Homo sapiens: one gene and its partner. The gene in region 2 interacts genetically with the main gene of each other region. Each region holds a gene or a part of one and is shown on either strand. Other genes may lie near its edges. The genes, in order: NSMCE1 and VPS4A.

Region 1 (3,812 bases), about 42 Mb from region 2:
TTTATCTGAGTTTGGAAAATACTGCACACCCTTTGGAGTTCTGAAACTTCTGAGGGCCCAGCATGTTGGCTGAGCTAAAGAATAAAGTCTGTAATATACGCCTGGTTACAGATCCATCCCTGCGGCCCGCAGTGCCTGGATACAGGAGCTCAGTGACTGGCCAGAGATGGAGGAGGGGAGGGAGGGAGAGCCAGCGACACGTTAACCAACACGCAAAGAGCACAGCCTGACTGTCGTGCTGACTTATTTCTTAGGTGAATCTTGCTACAACTTCAATTTCCAAAATGGCTACGGATTTTGCAGAGAATGAACTGGATTTGTTTAGAAAGGCTGTAAGTAGAGTAATCCCCATTGCCCATTGGGTGGGCTTCTTATGGGAAAGTTCTGTCTCCGTCATTAGCAGTGGCAACTGCAGTGTTCAAGGATCACTGGGGGGACATGGGCCACCATTGCTGTCTGAGAAAAGGCTTTGCAGGGAGATGTCACTGTCTACCCATCTGGAACTCACAGCTGCCAGGGGGTCCCCATGGCTGCCTGAGAAGGAAGTGCTGGGCCAGGTGTGAGCCCCAACTGGATGGGCAAGAGCAGGGCTTCACTGGTAGTAACAGGCGTTCCTGCCTGGCTGCTCCAAGTGCCATCTGGGAAAGGCAGCAGCAGCAGCATCGCCTGGGAGCTTGTTAGAAAGGCCCGGTCCCAGTCCCCACTCTAGACTGCTGAGTCCGAATCTGCATTTTTGCCAGGTGCCCACTGAATCCTTTGCACGTGCACATTTGACAGGTACTGTTCTACCAGGCTTCAGAGCTATTTGCTCAGCCTTCTGCTCAAACACATGGCTAAGAGTGGTTCTCAGGCCTAGATGCAATGATAATAACTGCAGAGGTGAAAAATAATTCAGACATTTCAGCCCCACTCACGATCTGTTGAATCCAAATCTCTGAGAACCAGGCGGTGGAATCATTCCTTTTAGATCTTCTCCTGGGGATTATTAGCCACCAAGGTTGAGGAGCAGGTGCTGAGCTGAGCACACACCTGCGTGTGCAGGAACCTGTCTTCCCCAGCGGTTCCTGCCTGCCGTGTCTCTCTCTCACTGCCTCCGAGGCCAGCCGTGAGGCAAGGCGACCCTCTTTGATTTGGGGACATTAAGATGATTTATTTGGGAGGATGTTATAGAAGTGACCTCTGAGTCAAAAGAACTGAGCACAGTCCTGGCTCTTGATGCACATTAAATTGTTTTCCCGGAATACCATGCCAGTGTACAGTTCTGCCTGTGATCTGAGTGGTTTTACTGTGCCTCTGCCAGACTTGGTATTACCATTTAAAAGTTATTTTTGCCATTTTAATAGATGAGCATGATACCTGCTCTTTCTTCCAGCTGGAACTGATTATTGACTCAGAAACCGGCTTTGCGTCTTCCACAAACATATTGAACCTGGTTGATCAACTTAAAGGCAAGAAGATGAGGAAGAAGGAAGCGGAGCAGGTGCTGCAGAAGTTTGTTCAAAACAAGTGGCTGATTGAGGTACTGTCTCATGGTTTTTCCAGCCTGGTTCACTTTTTCAAGTGAATAACAGTTTTTTCTCCAAAATCGTACTTGTAGCCAACTGATGTCTGAGGAGCCCGGCCTTCTCGGATCCCTTATCTGCTTTCATGCATTCCAGCAGTGACCCCGTGGGGAGGACTTGGGCCTCACTCCTCCTGCCTCCCACTCCCCGTTCACCCAGATGATGTGTTCAGGATGCCACAGCCAGAATGGCAGAGCCAGGAGCCGCGCCCAGGGACTTGGGCCCCAGGATCAAGGCTCTAGCCCACAGACTGCAAGGCAGGGCAGTTCCGTGGCTGAGAGTGTGGCTCTAACATCTAACCCGGGTCTGAACCCTGAGCCAGGTGACCTCATGTTCCTTGTAAGAGGGGAGTCGTTGTTTCCCCTTCGGGGCTGGGTGTGTCAGGAGCGGGAATGGGACCTCACAGTAATGTGCTCGGTGCTAGGCTGGCTGGCTCGCGGGGGAGGCGGCAGAGGAATTGGTGACATTACCACTGTTGTTTTTGTCAGCAGTGAGTTCCTCAGGGCCAGTGCTTAGAAGAGGCATAGACCTGCTTCAGGAAAGGAGCTGTGACATCTGGGACAGGCCCCACTGCAGCTCCAGTTTCTAGATGTTGCCCCCACCCCCACGTCTAGTCCTGCTGAATGGAGCAGAACAAATGTTTCAGTTCTTTTTCCACAAAAGGCACCCCTGTTTTCAACAGCTCAGTGTTTGCCGAGTTGACCACAGCTGTGCCTCCCAGGTGCTTGTGCCCATGTGTGTTGAGGACGCACTCACGCCGGGTCCCCGCTTCCTCACTTGGTGGTCGGACTCGTGGCCAGAGGCTGCTGCTTGTGGCTGCAGCGATTCTCCGCTTCCTTTTCAGGAAGGCTCGCGTCTGGGTTGGGGAAGTCTGTGTTCTGAGTTACTGATTTCTATTTAGGGTGGGCCTGTCCCAGGAACCTGACCCGAATTCAGTTCCTGGGGTACCTGATGGGAAGACAGGGTGGAGAGGTCATGGGGTGAGGGCAGGGCTGGGAGCTCCTGGTGAGTGCAGGATCTGCTGGGCGCGTTCCCGTATGTCATGTCTTGGAGGCTGTCTGCTGCCCTGCAGTGGCTCCATAGCTTAGTTTTTAGCTGACAGCTCAGGGGTCTGGATGACGTCGGACACCCTGAGAGTGGCAGGGCCGAGTTCAGGCCCCGGTTTGGGGACTGCAGCTCCCATCAATGGCTTTGTCACAGTTGTTCTTGCCCTCCAGGCTGTATTTGGCACTAGGGAATGTTCTAGGGCTACTCAGGTTATAACTGACCATTCTCGCTTGTGGTGCAGCCCCTCTTCAGGCCAATTTTTTTTTTTTTTTTAAGATGGAGTTTTGCTCTTGTTGCCCAGGCTGGAGTGCAATGGTGCAATCTTGGCTCACCGCAACCTCAACCTCCCGGATTCAAGCGATTCTCCTGCCTCAGCCTCCCAAGTAGCTGGAATCACAAGCATGCGCCATCACACCCGGCTAATTTTTCTATTTTTAGTAGAGACGGGGTTCCTCCATGTTGACCAGGCTGGTCTCGAACTCCTGACCTCAGGTGATCCGCCTGCCTCAGCCTCCCAAAGTGCTGGGATGACAGGCGTGAGCCAGCGTGCCCGGCCACAGGCCAAGTTTTTTAAGGGTAGGGGTTATGACCTCTTCATGGCTGGTCCCCATTGCAGAATGTAGTGCCTGGCACCTCAACTGCTCAATAAATGCTTGCTGAATGGATGACTGGACAGGTGGATGAGGTTGCAGAGGAACAGCATTTAAAACTTACAAAAAATGTTACAGGAAATATCTGCTCATTACAGGAGGATTAGAACATGTTGAGATGCATAAAGAAACCCACTGAAGTCACCTGTTATCCCAGACCCTAGAGCCGAGTGCCCCAACATCCCAGTACACAACACTTTGCACCCTGCTTTGCACCCAAGAGCACCATGCCTAGCACATGCTGCCACCATTGTGCATGGCTTGCAGGGCGTGCCCCCAGCTTTATGGTTTGACTTGCCCTTTGTCTGCCCTTGGTGTCTGGAGAGGGCGGTGGTGGATAGGAGAGGCCCCGCCCTGGAGTCTGTGGCGGTGAGCTGTGGCTGCAGGCGCTTGTACTCTGTGCCTTTCTCAGTTCGGTGGCAGTGCTGGCACCACCTTCTGCAGGGCGCCTCTGAGCTCGAGGGAGGGTGGACAGAGGATCCGGGAGCTGCCACCTGCAGGAGCGCTGCAGAAGTAGCAGGGGGCCCTCAGCACTGGCGCTGGGCAGTAGCCC
Region 2 (3,357 bases):
GGTATTCTTGCTGAACAGAGTCCTGAAAATCAAACTATACAAGTAGTAGGAAGTCCATTAAGCTGTTTAGAGGAAAAAGTGTTATAAATGGCAGTTAAATGAACCCAGGAAAGACCCATCCTCCTTTGTGGCTTTCTCTGAGGCCCCATGAGGCCAAGCAGAAGCAAACTGGCTCTAGGTGCAGCCAGACTTTGAAAAGGAATCCCGGCCAGGCTTGGTGGCTCATGCCTGTAATCCCAGCACTTTGGGAGGTCAAGGCAGGCAGATCACCTGAGGTCAGGAGTTCAAGACCAGCCTGGCCAACATGGCGAAACACTGTTTCTACTAAAAATATGAAAATTAGCTGGGTGTGCTGGTAGGCGCCTGTAATCACAGCTACTTGGGAGGCTGAGGCGGGAGAATCGCTCAAACCTGGGAGGCAGAGGTTGCAGTGGGCTGAGATCTCGCCACTGTACTCCAGCCTGGGCGACAGACCAAGGCTCTGTCTCAAAAAAAAAAAAAAAAAAAAAAAAAGGGAATCCCAACCAGATACTGGTGCAAGGTCAGAGATGCAGCCAATGGGGAGATTTGTAGAAAGCTCATAGATGCTAAAAACATGGGTCTTTAGGAAAATTAGAATTCAGCTGAGCCTCCTTTCATTTGGACAATGTTCAGAAGCTCTTACAGGGGGCTATGGCAATCTTTTGATGCTTCTTATAGCTTTCTGAGGTTAACGCTTTTGTGGTGGGCATCGGTAGCAATAAAATGCAAACTTTATTGCATTTCCAGTAAAATCTCTCCCACTTTGAGCAGGAAGCACTCACAAAAAACGCATATACATGTCAACGTTGTGAGCTCATCAGAGTTTTAGAAATCAACTTCCACAGTGAAAGCCAATGTAGGCAGAAGGTTTATAACAGAATCCCCAGGCAGAGAAGTGAATTTCAGAGCATTTCAGGGAGGAAACTCCTCTGCACATGTCAGCATGTTTAACATCGATGATGGCAGGTTGTGTGCTGGCAGCCAGAGTCTGAGGCCACTGTCCAAAGTTCAGCGTCAGTGGTTCCTGTTGCTGGTCATGGAGAGAGACAACTGGAAAGTCAGGTGTCTTCACGCTCTAACTAGAGCACAGGGATGGACCATAGCCATGCTAACCTTTGTTAACCCCTAGGACTTGTCAAGGTGTTTAAGCAGTAGGAATGAGGAAACAACGTTCTGATTCAAGTAAATGTAACTAGAAGTAAAAATTTAAAAACTTGTAAGCTCACTAAAGTGAAGCTCTGCAGACACGGTTCATATCCTGGTGGCTGAGGGCACATAACCAAGAACTTACACAAGCACCCCCAAGCCACAAAGATCCCAGCTGCTATGGTTGAGGGGTAACCTGCCAGCACTGGAGCCAAGTGTTGGAGCTACTGATCCAAAGTTAGCTCACTTCTGCAGAGGCTCTGAACCAGAGCAAAGAAATGGCCCAGTGCAAGCCCAGTGTGAGCCAAGAGTTGGCCATGTAATCAGTTCTGGCCCAACCAGGTTTGAAAGGTAGAGGAGCAGTACTGGGTTTTGGAGAGGGAAGGTTGGAACAAAGCCCTTTGCAGGCTATAAGCTTCATTTACTAGGCCAGGTCTTTCTGTGTGAATGTGCTTTGACTTTGGTCTGTTTATATGCATGGGGTAAACGTGGGACAGCCTCTGCAGCTTCACTGCCTGCCGGACGTGGGTCCAGGGCTGCCAGCTCTGGGTCCTTGGTCTGTTGGGGGTCGCAAACTGAAATGGCCATGGGGCTATCTGGGCAGGCAACACAGATGAGTGGGGATGGGGGACCCCTTCTGTACAGAGCAGCCTCTACTTAGTGGCCGCTGACAGGCTGCCCCATGAGGACGCAGGCCCAACATTACCTAATTTAATCTTCTAGAAGTCAGAATTCTGAATTTTTATGTCAACTCTCGACTTTTTTTTTTTTTTTGAGACAGAGTCTTGCTCTGTCGCCCAGGCTGGAGTGCAGTGGCGCGATCTCGGCTCACTGCAAGCTCCGTCCCCCGGGTTCACGCCATTCTCCTGCCTCAGCCTCCCAAGTAGCTGGGACTGCAGGCGCCCACCACCACGCCCGGCTAATTTTTTTATTTTTAGTGAGACGGGGTTTCACTGTGTTAGCCAGGATGTTCTCGATTTCCTGACCTTGTGATCCGCCCGCGTCGGCCTCCCAAAGTGCTGGGATTACAGGCGTGAGCCACCGCGCCCAGCAACTCTCGACTTTTAAATGTTAGCGGCCCAAAGTGCTGGGATTACAGGCGTGAGCCACCGCGCCCAGCAACTCTCGACTTTTAAATGTTAGCGGCAGACCAAACCAAACAAACACAGCTGCAGGACGGGTCTGGTACGCAGGGCTCCCACTTTGCAGTCTCTGATCTGTAGGCCGAACAACGGCAAGAACTGTCTGGATCCCACAAACATCCCCAGCCAAACTTCTGAGGCCTTAAGGGGAGGAGGCCTTGCACACCTGACTGGAGAACAGGCCTAAGAACTGCAGTGTTCTGTTTCCTGCTCTGCTTTAGAAAAGAGAGGAGACAGAAAACCAGAGGGTCTTTTAATTGGAAGCAAGGGTGGCCCTTCAGAGTCTCAGTTAAGAGTCAAGGAAAGATGAGATCACTTGGGTAGCTCAAGAAGGGAAAAGGATTTATTAGACCATTTCCAGGACAGGGACCCAGGGGCAGTGGCTGGGTTCAGTGTTCTCACGCTCAGAGGAAGAAAAGGCAGTGGTGAACACCCGCCTGACTGCCTTACCCTGATCTAAACGACACCATCTCCTCCCCCAAGGAAGACACAGCCCTGGATGTGAACCTAGGAGGGTGGGAATGGCTTATGTCACTCGGTCTTTGAGGCAGAGCTTGGGCTGGGGTTGCAGGGGCATCAGCCAATCTGCTCTCAAGGAGCAAAACTTGGGCGTAAAAGGAACGGGCAGTGGGGCTAGCCGGCTGTCTGGAGGTCTGGGTGACCTGGCAGCACGGCTGCTTCTCCCCCGCCACCCCGCCCCACTCCTTGACACTTCCAGGTGATTTTATCTTTATAAATAAGATGAAAATCCAAGCAGCATTAATTTAGGGGAACAAAAGATGGAAAAAAAAGGGGGGGAGGCAGAAGGAGCTGATGAGCATCCAGGAGAGGAGGAAGTAGGAAGAGCAGTGTCCACTGTGTGCCCCAGGGCAGTGGAGTGTCTCTGTGGCTGCAAGGCCCTTCCTTCTGGCTCCCTGGCAGACGGCCAGACAGCAGAGGGAACTCTGTATTGACTGGGACAAGCCCTGGAGCCCTGTCTGGCTGTTGACATGGGGAGTGCCTGGATTTGCCCCAATCAACCTCCCACCTTCACCATTGCCCAAGTGAA

What was found.
Region 1: changes in VPS4A (region 2) and NSMCE1 together harm fitness more than expected from each alone (negative genetic interaction), as found in Homo sapiens cells (one large-scale study listed by BioGRID).

The regions. Positions count from the first base shown.
Region 1 is NC_000016.10:27,230,708-27,234,519, reverse strand, and holds part of NSMCE1 (non-structural maintenance of chromosomes element 1 homolog), read left to right. Parts: intron 1-254; coding exon 255-332; intron 333-1,372; coding exon 1,373-1,519; intron 1,520-3,812. UniProt on the Homo sapiens protein: RING-type zinc finger-containing E3 ubiquitin ligase that assembles with melanoma antigen protein (MAGE) to catalyze the direct transfer of ubiquitin from E2 ubiquitin-conjugating enzyme to a specific substrate.
Region 2 is NC_000016.10:69,324,317-69,327,673, reverse strand, and holds the end of VPS4A (vacuolar protein sorting-associated protein 4A), read right to left. Parts: 3' UTR 735-3,357; downstream 1-734. UniProt on the Homo sapiens protein: Involved in late steps of the endosomal multivesicular bodies (MVB) pathway. Recognizes membrane-associated ESCRT-III assemblies and catalyzes their disassembly, possibly in combination with membrane fission.